2 separate regions of the Homo sapiens genome follow, and region 2 is linked to region 1. Evidence: fine-mapped expression QTL. A gene starts in region 1. The other region holds a variant in brackets. All regions are shown on one strand. Distances are from middle to middle. Region 1 holds the start of MAD2L2 (mitotic arrest deficient 2 like 2). Region 2 overlaps DRAXIN (dorsal inhibitory axon guidance protein).

What was found. PIP is the estimated chance that this variant, and not a neighbour inherited with it, causes the effect.
Region 2: its variant is fine-mapped to the expression of MAD2L2 in whole blood (INTERVAL, PIP above 0.99).

What each region holds. Positions count from the first base shown.
Region 1 is chr1:11,677,888-11,686,872 of GRCh38, reverse strand. It overlaps MAD2L2 (mitotic arrest deficient 2 like 2), which reads left to right and starts at 5,725. Exons shown (of 9, transcript NM_006341.4): 1 at 5,725-5,834; 2 at 6,260-6,311; 3 at 6,402-6,520. The coding sequence starts at 6,272. It also overlaps a transcript of DRAXIN not described here. RefSeq lists enhancers at 1,729-2,229, 3,179-3,760 and silencers at 5,384-5,903, 6,344-6,403.
Region 2 is chr1:11,714,694-11,723,847 of GRCh38, reverse strand. DRAXIN (dorsal inhibitory axon guidance protein) reads right to left here. Exons shown (of 7, transcript NM_198545.4): 6 at 8,640-8,729; 7 at 1-4,264. The coding sequence ends at 4,152. Among named protein-coding and RNA genes, the nearest start is that of AGTRAP, 17 kb to the left of the region's middle. RefSeq lists an enhancer at 4,035-4,104. The variant G/A (reference allele first, on the strand shown) is at 4,143.

The sequences.
Region 1 (8,985 bases):
TGTGAACTTTATGGTTTGTGAATTATATCTCCACAGAGAAGTTTTTTTTTTTTTTTTTTTTTTTTAAAGTGGCAGTTGAGCTGGATCAAAAGTTCTTACCTTGTGGCCCAGGATGGCTTCTGAATATATCTGGACACTCCTGATGTTGTGTAAGGCATTTAGTGTCTCTGGGCCGGGCGCAGTGGCTCAAGCCTGTAATCCCAACACTTTGGCAGGTGGAGGCGGGCACATCACTTGGGGTCAGGAGTTCGAGGCCAGCCTGGCCAACATGGCGAAACCCCGTCTGTACTAAAAGTACAAAAAAATTAGCTAGGCGCGGTGGCTTATGCCAGTAATCCCAGAGCTTTGGGAGGCTGAAGCAGGAACTCTGGAGGCCAAATGTTCAAGACCAGCCTGGGTAACACAGCGAGACCCTGTCTCTATGAAAAAAGAGCAGATGATCAGTAAGGTCCCCCTGACCACTGAGGGGTCAGCAACACTGGGAATCAGTAGAACCCCACGGAGGGAATGGCAGGTGAGGGCTTTGCTCTGGCTGAAGTGTCGGAAGCCATCTCAGGTCAGCAGTGAACCCTGGGATCTGGGACAGCTGTCCAGGTCAGGCCTCACACCAGAAGGCAGATGAGAGCGGAGAGGAGCTGTCAGCAGGAAGTCCTTGTCTTTAGGCATCTTGTTCCGTGATGATGCGTGTCCTCCCTAGGGCACCTTGGGAGTTGCCTGCTGCCTTGGGAAATGGAAATGGAGCTATGGGGATGCCGCTAAGGATGGTTTGGATGGGGTTTTGAAAAGTGTGACAGCTTGTCCAGAGGGTTTGTTCTGGGGGCTTAAATAGTGTATATAGACCTTAATATCATTGTCATAACAGTCATTAATTGAGCATTTATGTGCCAGGCATTGTGCACTTTATTTATTTGTTTATTTTTTGAGACAGGGTCTCACTTTATAACCCAGGTTGGAGTGCAGTGGTACAAACATGGCTCACTGCAGCGTTGATTTCCTGGGCTCAAGTGATCCTCCCACCTCAGCCCCCTAAGTAGCTGGGAATACAGGTGCACGCCACCATGCTCAGCTAATTTTTATATTTTTTGTAGAGTTTTTGCCATGTTGCCCAGGCTGGTCTCGAAGTCCTGAGCTCAAGTGGTCCGTCCACCTTGGCCTCCCAAAAAGCTGGGATTATAGGCGTGAGCCACCATGCCTGGCATTGTGCACTTTATATTTTTTATAAACATGAACATGGACATAAACATTTGCTCTTTGCTCAATCCTATGAAATTAGAACTACCATTATGCCATTTTACAGATGAGCAAACTGAGGTTCAGAGAAAGAAGGGCCTCGCAGCTGGTTAAGGGGCAGTGTTGGGGAGAGAAGCAGCAGGTTGGACACATGAGCAGGCCCAGTGGGTGCTGGGGACACCATAGGGAACATGCCACAGCCCTTGCTTTTGTTTTTGAAAATAGCTTTTCTCTGCATAGTGCCACCCATAGCCCGGGCACTGAAGTCGACGTGTTTTGCTCCTCATCCAGACTCAGTTGGGATTCAAGTCAGGCAAGTGGTAATGAGCCACTGTCCACCATCACTTCATTCCTCTGCCATTCATTCTTTCATTCACTCATTTGACACACATTTGCTGAGAACCTGAATTCGGGCTGGGCATGGTGGCTCAAGCCTGTAATCTCAGCATTTTGCGAGGGTGAGAGGCAGGAGGATCACTTGAGCCCAGGAGTTCGAGACCAGCCTAGGCAACATGGGGAGACCCTGCCTCTGCAAAAAATTTGAAAAATCAGCCAGGTGTGGTGGTGCACACCTGTAATCCTAGCTACTCAAGAGGCTGAGGTAGGAGGATCCCTTGAGCCCAGGAGTTTCAGGCTGCAGTGAGCTATGATTGCCCCACTGCACTCTAGCCTGGGTGACAAGGAGAGACCCTGTCTCTGGGAAAAAAAAAAAAAGAGAGAGAGAGAGAGAACCTGAATTTGGCCAGGCACTATATTGAAATAATGAATGAGGGCTGGGTCCCTGCCCCGGAGCATTGCAACTGGATGGGCCCCTGAGCGTCAGGATATCAGGAGATTGTCACCAGGCTATGTGTGTCTCACTCTGTATGTCCCCCATACCCATGTGATTGGTGTCCTGGGAACCTTAGGCAGGGTGGGAGAGCTGATTCATTCTGCCATCAGCCTGGTGGGGATGGGAGGGGTCTTGGAATCATTTCTGGGGTCTGGAAACTTCATTGCCCGGTTCACTCACTGTGGGTTTGTTCCATAAACCCCAGCAGTCCTCCTCTGCCCGAGCAGGTCTTCCTCTTTGCTGGGCTGGTGCTCACAGCTCACCTTCTCAGTTTCCATTTCAGTGTCTCTTGGGAGTGATTTTCCCTCCGTCCCCATCAGAGATCCTCAGGGACCTGCTCTAGTTGGCAAATAAACTCTTGCTCCCCCTAAACACCCATCCTTCCTTCCCAGCCGCCCTCCTACATATTGTCATTATGGTGAAAAATATGCAAATAACTTTGAACAACAGTCTCCCAGCAGACGGATGTTCAAAAATGTAATAAATTAACCCCATAATGTAATCTGGATCCCACAACCATCCATCATGCTGATGCGATTAAGATATGCAAAACCAGATGCTGAAGAGCGCATGGATGGAGTGTTGGCAGAGCTCCCCGGATGGGCCCATGCTGACTCGGCCCCCTGCCCCTGCCCCCGCCCCCATGGAACCTGAGGCCATCAGAGGTTTAGGGAACATCTATCTGGCCTGTTCATTTCACTAATGAGACTGAAGCCTTTTAGGGGTTTGGGGTCAGATGGGTTTGAATCCCTCCCCATCTGCTTCCTAACCCACCTTCCTTCTGTTTGTGATTGGATCTGAACCCAAGGCCCCAAACCCAGACTTTTTTTGTTTTTTTGAGATGGAGTTCTCGCTCTTGTTGCCCAGGCTGGAGTGCAATGGTGCGATCTTGGCTCACCACAACCTCCGCCTCCCGGGTTCAAGTGACTGTCCTGCCTCAGCCTCCTGAGTAGCTGGGATTACAGGCATGCGCCACCACACCTGGCTAATTTTGTATTTTTAGTAGAGATGGGGTTTCTCCATGTTGGTCAGGTTGATCTCAAACTCCTGACCTCAGGTGATCCACCAGCCTCAGCCTCCCAAAGTGCTGGGATTACAGGCGTGAGCCACCCACCGTGCCCAGCTGACGTTTTTTTTTAATTGCAATAATTTTTGGTTACATGGGTAAGTTATTTAGTGGTGACTGCTGAGATTTTGGTGCATCCATCACCTCAGCAGTGTACACTGTACCCAGTATGTAGTCTTTTGTCCCTCACCTTCCCACCCTTCCCTCACCTTCCCACCCTTCCTTCCCCCCGAGTCCCCAAAGTCCAATATATCATTCCTATGCCTTTGCATCCTCATAGGTTAACTCCCACTTACAAGTGAGAACATATGATATTTGCAAACCCAGATATTTTTATCCACAGGTTTCTAGTTGACAGGGTGGGTACTCCAGTGTCAAGAGCTGTTGGGACCTCAGTTTCCCCAAGGAAAAATGACAGTTGAGTTTATGTCCTCCAAGGTTTTTCTGACGTTCTTAGCTCTGTGTGTCAGGAGTTCTACGGGTGGCTCGTATTGTGTTTTCTCAGGGCAGAGGGCTGGGGCTGGGAGCTCATGGAGGGAGGGCCTGACTTGAGCCCCAATGCCCCTCACACTGTGTCCTGAAGGCCATCCCACAGGAGTCACTTGGCTCTCAGTTTCCCCACCCCAGGCCCCAGTCTGAAGGGCTCCTTTGCAAGGAGTTGCCCCCTATGACTGCCACTGCCTGTCACCAATGCAAAAGCTGCTTAAGCAGCCTCCAGAGAGGGAAAGGAAAGACCCTTGCTTTTCCCAAGTTCTGCAATGAGTCAGTCTCAAGGAGCCACGGAACTCTGTGTATAAGCCAGTGAGTTGCTTGGCCAGCTCTGTGTGGAAATGGCATGATGTGTGCAGGATCCCCATATCTTGAGAATGGTTGCTGTGCCCAGAATGTGCTGCCAAGTGCACCAGTTCCTAAAACAAAATCATCCATCCCTTTGGATGGATGATTTTACATCACAATTTTACAAAATGCATCGCATTTTTACAAAATGAAGATATTCTCTGGGAACAGTCCAAACCTCTGTGGTGATTCCCACACTTTGCTGGGCATCCGGGCCCCTGGGGAGCTTGTTAAAGGGCCAGTGCCCTGCTGTGCACCCCACCTCGATCAGGTTGCTCTAGGCAGCAGGGCAGCTGTGATTAATGGGCTCCTGGGGGATTCTGATGCAGATTTCCTAGGACTGCATTTGAAGAAATGTTTTGCTGACATTCCTAGCTTAATGGGTTACTTACAGGTTACTTTTTCTCTCCCCATTAGAAGTCTGGAAATGCAGGTTTGAAGGCATCAGGGGGCGGGGGGAGGGATCCAGGTCTTCTATAATGAGCTGTAAACGATAAACAAGTCTGGCTAGATCTGTGTCCAAACAGACGGATGGGACTAACAAGCTCTTACGTCCCTGGAGGTCACAGACAAAGTCCTCTTGGCTTCTGGTCCTGACTTGTTGCCCACTAACTCCGTAGCTGCTTCTCAGATCTTAGTTTTCTCACTTGTAAAATAAGGGGGCTGTAAATAAGTGGAAGCCCTGGTGTCAGAAGAGGCATCAGAGCTGGGTTTGTATTCCCACTGTGTGATTTTGGCGAATTAGAGAACGTTTCTGGGCCTGTTTAACCATCTGTAAAGTGGGGCTATAAAATGGAGACTTAGCTGCTAGGGTTAATGAGAGAATTAACGGAATCAGTGTTTGACACATAAGAAGTGCTCGATGTTAGTCATTATTTTTTATTATTTTAGTAATATCATCTCTGAGGGCCCTTACAGGACTTCCAGACCGAGTCCACGCCCCTGGGGGACTTGGGAGCAGTAAAATGTAGTGGCAGGAGGCACCTCGGCCATCGCCCACCCCACCAGCTGGGAGACTCGGGCAGGTTATTCACCCTTCTGCACCTCGCTTGACTTATCTGTATAAAGAGAACAGTCACAGTAACTGCCTCATGGAGTTACTCCCAGGACTGAGATAATCCACGGACACACTTAGCCCAGTGCCCAGCACTCGGCTGGAGCTCCAAAAAGGTCAGCTATTGTTATGAAGCGTAGGGCGGGGAGGGTTCATCCTCTTGGGCGGTCAGGCCAGGCTGCATTTAGGTACCCGGTGGGGGCGGAGCAGGGGCGACGCCGGTGCACGCCCTCTTTTTTTTATTTTTAAAATTTCACCCGGGCCTTGACAACCGGTACAATCCTGTCCTCCCCTGTTCCCGCCCCCGAGCCAGAGGATTCGCTTTTGCGTGGGCAGCTGCAGGGATGGTGACTCGGGCTAGCTCAGATGTGGCTGCCGTTAGTCCCCAGCTGCGCGCTCCCCCGTCCCTCCCCAGCCCTCTTCCGGCGCCTGCTAAAGCGAGAGAAATGCCCTCGGGGGAAGATATGTAGCGATCCAATGGAACGTGGAGATCAACGTTGTGTTTTCTTCGCGCCCACCCGAAGTTGAAGGGAGGTGGCGCGGCGGGTCTCAGCCCCTCCCGGACGCCGAGGCCCGGCCCCCGCCCCTCGGAGACCCGCCCCCGCATGCGGAACCGCCCTCTGCGAGGCCCGGTTTGGGCCGTGCGGGAATGGGCGTGGCCTGGGCGGGGCGGGCGCTAGGACCCACCGGAGCGCCGTGAACGTCACCGAGCGGCGCCGAGGCCCCGGGTTGAGCGGGAGGCGCGATCGGTCCGGTCGGTGGCTCCCCGCGGCGGGGCCGGGCCCGATCTCGGGCGGGAACCGAGCGCAGAGCCGGTACTGGGGGAGGGGAGAGGGGGCGGGATTCCCGCCGGGAGGGATCCGGCGTAGCAGGGGGCGGAGTCTTATTCCAACCCCGCTTCGCTTTCCGCATGTCCCGCTTTGCGCTCCCGGCCCTGGGCATCCCGCTGTTTCCCTCTGCGTCCGCGGCCCTGCCCTTTTCGGGGGCACAGCTGTGGTCTTTCCACCCCGCGAGACAGCGGGGCGAGGGGGCGCGGGCGGCCAGTGGATAGAGGCTGATGCCCCCAAGCACGGACGCCAGCGTGGGGGTGGAGGTTCTTCCAGCTGCCCTGAGCCTGTGCGAAGCGGGAGGTCCTTCCCCAGTTCCCACAGACTGTGGGGAGGGAAGAGACGGTGGAAGCGAGCGGGTTCTGGGCTCCTGGGTCTCTGGAACTACCCTCTGCCCTTGCCCCAACACTCAGGTAGCGGGAAGGATGACCACGCTCACACGACAAGACCTCAACTTTGGCCAAGGTAGGGAGGCTGGACCTGCGGGCCCGGGGGCGGGGGCGTCTGGGCCGGCGGGCTTCCTCGAGCGCGCCACCGGCTTGTGCCCCCCTGCAGTGGTGGCCGATGTGCTCTGCGAGTTCCTGGAGGTGGCTGTGCATCTCATCCTCTACGTGCGCGAGGTCTACCCCGTGGGCATCTTCCAGAAACGCAAGAAGTACAACGTGCCGGTCCAGGTGAGGCACGTCCCAGAACCACAGAGTGGGTACAGGGTGGACTTTTAAAAATTCTTTGGTCGGGCGCCGTGGCTCACGCCTGTAATCCTAGCACTTTGGGAGGCCGAGGCGGGCGGATCACCTGAGGTCAGGAGTTCGAGACCAGCCTGACAAACATGGTGAAACCCCGTCTCTACTAAAAATACAAAAATTAGCCGGGCGTGGTGGCCAAGGCCTGTAATCCCAGCTACTCAGGAGGCTGAGGCAGGAGAATCCCTTGAACCCAGGAGGCGGAGGTTGCAGTGAGCCGAAATTGTGCCACTGCATTCCAGCCTGGGTGACAAGAGCGAAACTCCGTCTCAAAAAAAAAAAAAAAAAAAAAAAAAAACCTCTTCCACTTCGGGCCAAGCCACCTCATTCCGCAGGGCCCTGCCCATGCCTTCCAATGCCTTCCAGTTCCAAAGTGGTGATGCCTACCCACCCCTCAGAAGAGAGTTCCCCTTGCCAGAAGTTAGGGACCAGGCCTGATAAGAGTTACCCCGGGGGTGGCCGGGCATGGTGGCTCACACCTGTAATCCCAGCACTTTGGGAGGCTGAGGCGGGCGAATCACAAGGTCAGGAGTTCAAGAAACCAGCCTGACCAACATGATGAGATCCTGTCTCTACTAAAAATACAAAAATTAGCCTGGTGTGGTGGTACGCGCCTGTAATCCCAGTTACTAGGGAGGCTGAGGCAGGAGACTCGCTTGAACCCGGGATGCAGAGGTTGAAGTAAGCCCAGATCGTGCCACTGCACTCCAGCCTGGGCGACAGAGCAAGACTATGTCTCCAAAAAAAAAAGTTACCCTGGGGGCATGGTGGCACTTTGAAGGAGCTCGTGAAGCTGGTGAACCTTGGTGTGAGGAGGGTATTTCCAAAAACCTCCAAATCTTCTCCCTACCATTTATCCTAAACTCAATGGGTTAAGGCTAAAAGGCAGACAAAGCAGTGTGCATCGCACTGTAGCTCCAGTCCCTAGAAGTGCCTGTCTCTGGAAGGCACTCAGGAAACATGAGAATAAGTGGTAGAAGCTCAAAGGACATCCAGGTGGTCCCCGCTTCAAGTCCCCACACCACCATTGTTTTCTCACTTCCAGTATGGTATTCAAGACATTACTTGAGGTAGTCAGCACTTTATTTTTTATTTTATATTTTATTTTATTTTATTTTTTGAGACTGAGTCTCGCTCTGTCGCCCTGGCTGGAGTGCAGTGGCGTGATCTTGGCTCACTGCAACCTCCACCTCCTGGGTTCAAGTGATTCTCCTGCCTCAGCCTCCCGAGTAGCTGGGATTACAGGCGTGTGCCACCACATCTGGCTAATTTTTGTATTTTTAGTAGAGACAAGGTTTCGCCGTGTTGGCCAGGCTGGTCTCGATCTCCTGACCTCTGGTGATCCACCTGCCTTGGCCTCCCAAAGTGCTGGGATTACAGGCGTGAGCACTTTATTATGAAACAGGTTTTGTGTTAGATAATGTTGCCCAACTGTGGGCTAATGTGTTTTGAGTGTGTTTAGGTAGGCCTGGCTAAGCTATGATGTTCTGTATGTTATGTGTATTAACTGCATTTTCCGCTGGCGATATTTGATTGGTTTATCCAAACATAAACCCATAGTAAGTTGAAGGTCACCTTTAGAGGGGAAAGGAAAAAACAATTGACATTTACTCACTTCTTCTTTATGATGAAGTGATTGAAGCCCAGAGAAGTTAAGGAATTTGCCTGAGGCCACACAGTTCCTTAGTTCTTAACTTTTGACATCTGATTACATTTTCCTGGATCCTTTTTCTGGAAAAATGCCCAAGTGCACAAAGATACAACTTTAGGGATTTTTCAGACTCTGGAGGAGTCCATGGACCCCACATTAAGAACCCCTAATGGTATATTAAATGCTCATATTGGGATTGAGTTCTTATCTTTCTTTTCCTTTGAGATGGAGTCTTGCTTTGTTGCCCAAGCTGGAGTGCAGTGGCTTGATCTCAGCTCACTGCAACCTCCGCCTCCCAGGTTCAAGTGATTCTCCTGCCTCAGCCTCCCAAGTAGCTGGGATTACAGGTGCCACCTCACCTGGCTAATTTTTGTATTTTTAGTAGAGATGGGGTTTTGCCATTTTGGCCAGGCTGGTCTCAAACTCCTGACCTCAGGTGATCCACCCACCTCATCCTCTCAAAGTGCTGGGATTAGAGGAGTGAGCCACTGTGCCCAGCCTGAGTTCTTATCTTCTAACTTCTTTCTCTATGGATAAGTTCACAGTTCTTAGCCTCTGGTTTTTTTTTTTTTTTTTGAGATGGAGTCTCGCTCTGTTGCCCATGTTGCAGTGCAGTGGCGTGATCTCGGCTCACTGCAACCTCCGCCTCCCGGGTTCAAGCGATTCTTTTGCCTTAGCCTGCCAAGTAGCTGGGACTAAGGTGCCTGCCACCATGCCCGGCTAATTTTTGTATTTTTAGTAGAGA
Region 2 (9,154 bases), 37 kb before region 1:
GCTGAGACGGGGGGATCACCTGAGGTCAGGAGTTTGAGACCAGCCTGGCCAACATGGTGAAACCCCATCTCTACTAAAAATACAAACAGTAACCGGGCGTGGTGATGCTTGCCTATAATCCCAGGTACGCGAGAGGCTGAGGCGGGAGAATCACTTGTACCCAGGAGGCAGAGGTCGCAGTGAGCCGAGATCGTGCCACTGCACTCCAGCCTGGGCAACAAGAGTGAAACTCTGTCTCAAAAGAAAAAAAAAAAAAAAGAAGTATGCATTCACTACTCACAACAACCCTATGAAGGGAGAGTTATTATTCCCATTTTACAGATGAAAAAATCAAGGCACAGAGACCTTAAGAAACTTTCCTAAGGTTGCCAAAGCTGTGAGAGGTGGAATAGGTGGATTTAACACCAGCCACACTGCTACAGATGGAAGGGGAGAGCAGAGACTCTCCGCCCCAGCTGCACCTGAAGTTACCTGGGAGAAAAACTATGAAGCCCAGACCAAACAAAACAGAAGCTTTGTGGGTGGGCCCCAGGCCTGTGAATGTTCCTGGATTATTGCAACGTGCAGCCAGCGTTGAGAGTGAGCAGGCTTGAGCAGGGGTTGGCAAACCGTGACCCTCAGGCCAAATCTGCCCCACTGCCTGGTTTTGCGCAGTTGGCAAGCAAAGAGCAGTTTTTGCACTTTTAAATGGTTTTAGAAAATTAAACTAATAATATTTTATGGCCAGGTGCGGTGGCTCACACCTGTAATCCCAGCATTTTGGGAGGCTGAGGCGGGCGGATCACCTGAGGTCAGAAGTTTGAGACCAGCCTGGCCAACATGGTAAAACCTTATCTCTACTAAAAATACAAAAATTAACCAGGTGTGGTGGCACATGCCTGTAGTCACAGCTACTTGGGAGGCTGAGGCAGGAGAATTGCTTGAACCTGGGATGAAGAGGTTGCAGTGAGCTGAGACTGAGCCACTGCATTCCAGCCTGGGCAGCAGAGCAAAACTCCATCTCCAAAAAAAAAAAAAAGGAAAGAGAGAATAATATTTTGTGACATGTGAAAAGTATACAGAATTCACATGTGTGTCCAGAAATAGTTTTCCTGGAGCATAGCCATGAATTCATTTACACACTCTCTGTGGCTGCTTCGAGCTACGGCAGAGCTGAGTAGCTGGTGGAGATCAGATGGCTTGCAAATCCTAAAATGTTTATTTGGCTCCTCACAGTAAAAGTTTGCTAAACCCTGGATTAGAGGAAACTGGCTTCTGTATGAGCAAAATAAATTTAAGATAGACCTAAGGAAGAACTTCCTGGCAGAGAGGTTGGTTAGACACTTGAGAGGGCTTTGGGATTCCCAGCTCTGGAGTTAAGAGGTTCCATCCACCCATCCCTCTTTGGAAATGTCAAATAGAGATAGCTAGGGCAAAGAGACGGGCCTTGAATTTCCAACCATGGAACTACCCTGGCAACCAGTGGCAGTTCTATGGGCATTTTAGCTTTGTCCTGACCCTCTGTGTTCTCCATGGCTGATGTCCTAGGACCATCTAACAGCTGTCCCCCAGCCATAGTAATGCTGGGCTTTCTTCCGGCGGTACTCCTTAGGGTTCTAGCCCCACAGAGCCAGCACAGTCCCGAGTCACCACTTAATGTGAGGCACACACAGCATGTGTGGGTTGTCTGGTCTCAAGTACGAAGCTGCTGGCAGATCTGCCTTTTTACATTTTTAAGTGTTTTATATTTTTGGAGTCTCACTCTGTCGCCCAGGCTGGAGTGCAATGGCGTGATCTTGGCTCACCGCAACCTCCGCCTCCTGGGTTCAAGTGATTCTCCCGCCTGAGCCTCCTGAGTAGCTGGGATTACAGGCACCTGCCACCATGCCTGGCTAATTTTTGTATTTTTAGTAGAGATGGGGTTTCACCATGTTGGTCAGGCTGTTCTCGAACGCCTTACTTCAAGTGATCTGCCTACCTCGGCCTCCCAGAGTGCTGGGATGTCAGACATGAGCCCTCGTGCCCAGCCTTAATTTTTGTATATTTGGTAGAGACCGGGTTTTGCCATGTTGGCCAGGCTGGTCTCAAACTCCTGACCTGAGGTGGTCCGCCCACCTCAGCCTCCCAAAGTGCTGGGATTACAGGCATGAGCCATTGTGTCTAGCCATATCTGCCTTTCAGCTAGCCTGCTTTGATCTCCCAGTTCCCCTGCCCTCCCTGCTCCCTCCCCACAAGGTTCCCATGCCCATCAAACTTGGATAGGGAGAGAACAAGCATATTTAATTTCTTCTAGATCTGCCTGCTTTCCTTGGTGCCTGACCCCTGACCCCGACTGATTTTTCCAACGCAGTAAACATCTCTGGCATCTTATGGGCGTGATCCAGGCCAGTGAGGAATTTGGCCAGGAAAGTCTTTTGTCATTTGCAACCTGGTTCGCCCTGGAACAGAGGGTTGGCCAGGAGTGAGATGCCAAGTGGGGGGATTTAAATGGTTCTCCTGAAGTGACCCCTGAAGCCAGATCTGCTGGGACAGATGTCCTGGGTGGGCATTGTGAGTCTGGCCTGTTAGGGGCAGTTAGCTTCAGATAGCACCTCAATTTCAGGTGAGCCTCAACTTCCCAGTGGGCTCTGCTGCAAAAATGTGGGGTGGGGTTCCAGGGATGGTTTTGTGGTCCTGGAAATCACTAAACAGTATGCAAAGTGGGTAAACATGGGCAATATGTGTGGGGTTTTTTTGGATTCCATGCTTGCATCAGAACCCCTGGGGGGGAAGTGCTCCAGAAAACTGTAAAGTGCCTGTCCAGGACTGGATGATCAGGACCACAGGGACATAAAGGCCAACATGATTCTTTTCCCCAAACACTTCTTATCCCAGGATATCAGCTACTAGACCACAGGGATCAACCTGCCCAACTTATTCCTGCAAGCAAGTATGTGCTTAAGTTGTATTTTGTTTTGTTTTTAAACATGATACACCTTTATCCAGGGAAGGCAGAGAACAGTCAAGTTATTCCAGCCACAGAGGAAGGGAATACCAGGGTGTGAGCCTCTCTTGCCAAAAGCCTTAGAGAATCTGGAAGAAATTCTTGGCTGTGGAGCAGCAAGAACGTGGGCCTTGGAGCTGGACAGCCTTGGCCCAGGTTCATGTCCTTGCTCTGCCATGTACTTCCCAGGACCTCTCAGTGGGTCCCTGGGCCAGCAGCCTCGCGTTCCCTGGGAGCTTGTTAGAGCACAGAGCCCACTGAGTCAGATGTGCTTTTTTTTTTTTTTTTTTTTGAGATGGAGTTTCACTCTTGTCCCCCAGGCTGGAGTGCAGTGGCACGATCTCTGCTCACTGCAACCTCTGCCTCCCAAGTTCAAGCGATTCTGGTGCCTCAGCCTCCGAGTAGCTGGGATTACAGGTGTGCACCACCGCGCCTGGCCTAATTTTTGTATTTTTAATAGAGACGGGGTTTCCCCATGTTGGCCAGGCTGGTCTCGAACTCCTGACCTCAGGTGAGCCACCCGCCTTGGCCTCCCAAAGTGCTGGGATTACAAGCGTGAGCCGCCGCGCCCGGCCAGATGTACATTTTTAACTGGACCTCCAGGTGACTCTTAGCATGTTCAGGTTTGAGGAGCACTGACCTGGGACCCTGGGCAAGTCGAGTCAAATAACTCCAGCGTGCCTCACGGTCCTCAACCTGTCGCATGGTGATAATGCCTACTTGAAAAGGTCGTTGTGATAATTCAATGAGATAATGTATTCCAGCACTTAGCACAGTGCCTGGTACATAGGAGATGTTCCATATTCATCTCCTGATGGTGGACCTTCTTTCGGGAAGTTTAAATTTCTTTTCCACTCTCAAAAACGCCTCTTGGTTTTGAACTTGAAGCTGTTGCAGTGCTGGAGTCGGACAGTAGAGGGCACTCTCGGCATTGCCATCGCGGAGAGCAAGACACGCGGGATGGAGGCTGCGTGGGTCCGGACTTCGTGTGTGCAGGTGCTGCGGGCCGGCTCCTGGGCACCCACCCAGCTCATTCGCCGAGCGGCTCCCCTCCTGGGGTTGAGTGTCCTGGGCCTGAGTCTGCAGCCTCAGCCATCTGTTCCCCAACTTGATCTCCCACTGCTAGTTACAAACAAATCGCCCGGCTTGTGCAAACCTCCTGGGCTCAGTCCCCAGTCCC[G/A]CGGGGCCGCTAGACGTTGATGAAGGATCCCTGGTCGCCGTTGGCCGTCTCGGGCTCCACACAGCGCCCTTTCCTCCGTGTAACCCTGCGGTTCCGGTGGAATTTGGCATAGCAGCGCAGCCCTGGGCGAGTGGAGGCAAGGGGGGTCAGAGGCGCGAAGGGCCCGTGCCCTCCCCTTCCTTCCCCTGCACGCTCGGGGCCAGCCAGCTCCCTCCTGCCTTCATTATTCTGCCCTACAACCCAGCTTCCTCACGGCAGCCCCAATGAGCTTAAAAGACACGAACCCGGAAGAGGGGAGGAATGAACACGGAAGGAGAACAGAGAAGACTCAGGGCGGTCGGGGCGGTGAACATATTCTGTGTGACACGTAATGGTGGGACATGGCATGCATTTGTCAAAACCCACAGAATGCACCGCACAGTGAACTATAACTTACGTTGACTTCAGTTAGTAATAATAATACATCACTATTGGTTTGTCAAGCAACAAATGTACCAAGAGAGGCCGGGCACGGTGGCTCACGCCTATAATCCCAGCGCTTTGTAAGGCCGAGGCAGGTGGATCACTTGAGGTCAGGAGTTTGAGACCAGCCTGGCCAACATGGTGAAACCCCGTCTCTACTTAAAAAAATACAAAAACTACCCGGGCATGGTGGTGGGTGCCTGTAATCCCCGTTACTTGGGAGGCTGAGGCAGGAGAATCACATGAACCCGGGAGGTGGAGCTTGCAGTGAGCCAAGATCATGCCACTGCACTCCAGCTGGGGCGACAGAGCTAGACTCCCTCTCAGAAAACAAACAAACAAACAAACAAACAAACAAATCTACCACATGATTGCAAGATGTTATTAATAGGAGAAACTGCATGCAGGGGCAAAGCAGGTATATGAGAACCACATTCTGTGAAATTTTTCTAGAAAACTGCTCTAAAAATAAAGTCCACAGGGTACGGTGGCTCACACCCGTAATCCCAGCACTTTGAGAGGCTGAGGTGGGAGGATCGCTTGAGCCCAGTAGTTCCAGACCAGCCTAAGCAACATAGGGAGACCCTATCTCTACAAAAAATGTAAAAATTAGCCAGGCATTGTGGCATACACCTGTAGTCCCAACTATAGGAAGGAGGGGCTAACATGAGAGGATCCTTTGAGCCCAGGAGTTCCAGGCTGCAGTGCGCCTTGGTTGCACCACTGTAGTTCAGCCTGGGTAACAGAGTGAGACTCTGTCTCAAAAAAATTAAAAAATAAAATACACAGATAAATTCAATTAAAAAGTCTATAATCTTGAAAATTGGAAAGGAAAAAGGTTATTAAATTTTTTTTTAAGTGGCTCAAATTCTGCCCTTCCCTGTAAAACATCCTATGGAGAGCCATTGCTTTTTTTTTTTTTTTTTTTGAGATGGAGTTTTGCTCTTGTCACCCAGGCTGGAGTGCAGCGGCACCATCTTGGCTTATGAAACCTCTGCCTCCTGGGTTCAAGTGATTCTCCTGCCTCAGCCTCTCGAGTAGCTGGGATTACAGGCATGCGCCACCACACCCAGCTAATTTTGTATTTTTTTTTTTTTTTTTTAGCAGAGATGGGGTTTCACCATGTTGGCCAGGCTGGTCTTGAACTCCTGGCCTCAAGTGATCTGCCCACCTCCGCCTCCCAAAGTGATGGGATTACAGGCATGAGCCACCGTGCCGGGCCTCCCTTTTTTTTTTTTTTTTTGAGACAGGGTCTTGCTCTGTTGCCTGGACTGGAGTGCAGTGGCATGGCAAGATCTCGGCTCACTGCAATCTCTGCCTCCTGGGCTCAAGTGATCCTCCCCACTTCAGCCTCCCAAGTAGCTGGTACTATGGGTGTGCGCCACCACACCCGGCTAATTTTTTTTTTTTTTTTTGTATTTTTGGTAGAGACAGTGTCTCTCTACCTTGCCAAGGCTGGTCTCCAACTCCGGGCTCAAGGATCCACCTGCCTTGGCCTCCCAAAATGCTGGGATTACAGGCATGAACCACCCCGCCTGGCCTCCAATGCCCACTTCTGTCTACCCTTTCTTTTTTTTTTTTTGAGACGGAGTCTCTCTCTGTTGCCCAGGCTGGAGTGCAGAGGCACGATCTCAGCTCACTGCAACCTCCGCCTCCTGGTTTCAAGAGATTCTCCTGCCTCAGCCTCCTGAGTAGCTGGGATTACAGGTGCGCGTCACCACACCCGGCTAATTTTTGTATTTTTAGTAGAGATGGGATTTCACCATGTTGGTCAGGCTGGTCTCAAACTCCTGACCTCATGATCTGCCCGCCTTGGCCTCCCAAAGTGCTGAGATTACAGGCATGAACCACTCCCCTGGCCTCCAATGCCCACTTCTGTCTACCCTTTCTAAAACAACTGTAGGACTCATTATCATATTATTATCTTTATAGCCCTTATTACTTACTTTTTTTTTCTTTTTGAGACAGAGTCTCACTCAGTCACCCAGGCTGGAGTGCAATGGCAGGATCTCGGCTCACTGCAATCTCTGCCTCCCGGGTTCAAGCGATTCTCATGCCTCAGGCTCCCGAGTAGCTGGAATTACAGGCAAGTGCCACCATGCCCATCTAATTTTTGTATTTTTAGTAGAGACAGGGTTTCACCATGTTGGCCAGGCTGGTCTCACTCCTGACCTCAAGTGATCCTCCTGCCTCGGCCTCCCAAAGTGCTAGGATTACAGGCATGAGCCACCATGCTCGGCCATAGCCCTTATTATTTTCTAAAGACATACTATCTATGTATTTGATTGTTGTCTGCTCATATCACTAGAATGTAATTCATGGGCACAGAACTTGCTGGTTCTTTTCACTACTGAACCCCCCAGTGTCCAGAGCAATGTCTGATACGCAGTAGGTGCTCCCTAAATATTTAACTGATTAGATGAGTGAATAATCAGAACTACATAGCTTTATTGCCGAGGCGGGAGGATCCCTTGAGCCCGGGAGTTAAAGCTACAGAGAGCTGGGATTGCGCCACTGCACTCCAGCCTGGGTGACAGAGTGAAACCCTGTCTCAAAAAATAATTAAATTAAATTTAAAAGTCCACAATTTTAAAAATTGGGAAGAAAAAGATGTATTATCATCATTTTTAAGACAGGGTCTCGCTCCATCATCCAGGCCGGAGTGCAGTGGCACGATCATGGTAGATAACTCTCTGAGGCTAATATGAGCAAAACGGGGCATGTATCTCAGGTCCACAGAGGGGCTGAGCCCCAATTCCCCCATCCAGGAGATGTGTGAATGCTGATTTGATATTGGATGGAACTGATTAATTATCGTTCATGTTTGGCATTTTGTTTTTAAAAGAGTACTTGTCTTTCAGAGGTACACACTAAAATATTCACAGGTGAAATACCTGTAAGCTCCCAGGAGTTGCTTAGAAATCATGTCGGAATAAGGAAAGTGTGTGAGAGATGATAGACACAGATTGGCCGTGAGTTGGTATTGAAGCAGAGTGATGAGAAATGGGCGCTCATTAGACTATTCTAACTACTTTAGTATATATTTGAAACTTTGCAGAATACAAAATTGAAACTGGCTGGGTGTGGTGGCTCATGCCTGTAATCCCAGAACTTTGGGAGGCCAAGACAGGTGGATCGCTTGAGGTCAGGAGTTTGAAACCAGCCTAGGGAACATGGCAAAACTCTGCCTCTACCAGAAATACAAAAATTAGCTGGGCTGGTGGCATGCGCCTGTAGTCAGAGCTACCTGCAGGGCTGGGATGGGAGGATCACCTAAGCCTGGGAAGCAGAGGTTGCAGTGAGCCAAAACTGCACTGCTGCACTCCAGCCTGGGTGACAGAGTAAAACCTGTCAAAACAAAACAAAAACCTGAAACTATTCCCCCCACTTTCCTGGCTGTGTAAGTTTGGGCATCATTAAGCTTTCTGTGCCCCAGTTGGCTTATTTGTACAGTGCGGATCATCATAGCTCCTTTCTAGGGGTGGTCATGGGGATTTCAGTAGAAAAGTGCTCAGCACAGAGCCCAGCACACTTAGGCGAGGTGGGGGCACGGAGGAGTTGAAGAGGCAGCTGGGCAAGTGCATCCTTCCCTGGGACATGCTGGGAAACCCACCCCCACCCCATTATCACACTTCAATGCCTCCTCTGGGATAGAATTCTGGTGTGAAAGCGGCAGCCTTCTGAGGCTGGATCTAATTTAAAGAGATGTGCTCCTGTCTCCTCCCTTCTCCCTCTTCCAGATAGTGGGAGATTGTGCCAGCTTGTATTTCAAAAGTTGAGAAAAGCAAATCTCAGAAATGATGCCAAGAATCAGGACTAAATGAGTTCACAGATTGGGAAGGCACTGATAAAGCTGTTCTTGCTCACGTCTTCGGCTCCCGAGGGATTCTCCCACCTACACCCCCGCCGCAGGCCCATGATCCACCCTCTGCCAGGAAAGCTTGTTCCCCACTCGGTGCAGAAGCCGCTTCGAGAAAGGGAGGCTTTGTGGTTCTCAGAGCATGGGTAGCCCCCCGCAAAGGAGTCTGGACCCACCTTCCACACACATGCAGTCATCGAAGCATTTGTTGTTGAGGCCTCGGTTGTGGGGTGTGCAGAGATGCTCCCGCAGGTCGCAGCAAGTCCCTGCCAACACAGAGAGCACACGCAGTCAGCCAAGCTGAGCCGCCCCTCCCCGCAGCCCTGCACTCGGTCCCACTGGACAAGAGATCCATCATCTCTGTGGCAGGCCGCGCCCTGGCGGGGTGGGCCATCTGGTGTGCAAGGCTCCTGAGTGGAACCACAGGGAGATGTCATGGCCGAGGCCCCCAAGGGTCGGTGGCAGAGACCCCAGCTGCCTCAGATGGGGTACTGATTGACCATGGGAAGAGCGAAGGTGGTGTGAGGTCTCCTCCCAGACAGAGCCAGTAGAACAGCTGGGGGCTGCCAGGTGTGGAGTCAGCTCAGAGCTGGGAGGGGCCTCAGGATCCCCAAAACCAATGTCCTCTTTTGACAGATGGGGAAACTGAAGTCCTGGGCACCTGCCATGGAGCCGGCTCCCAGAGCGACTG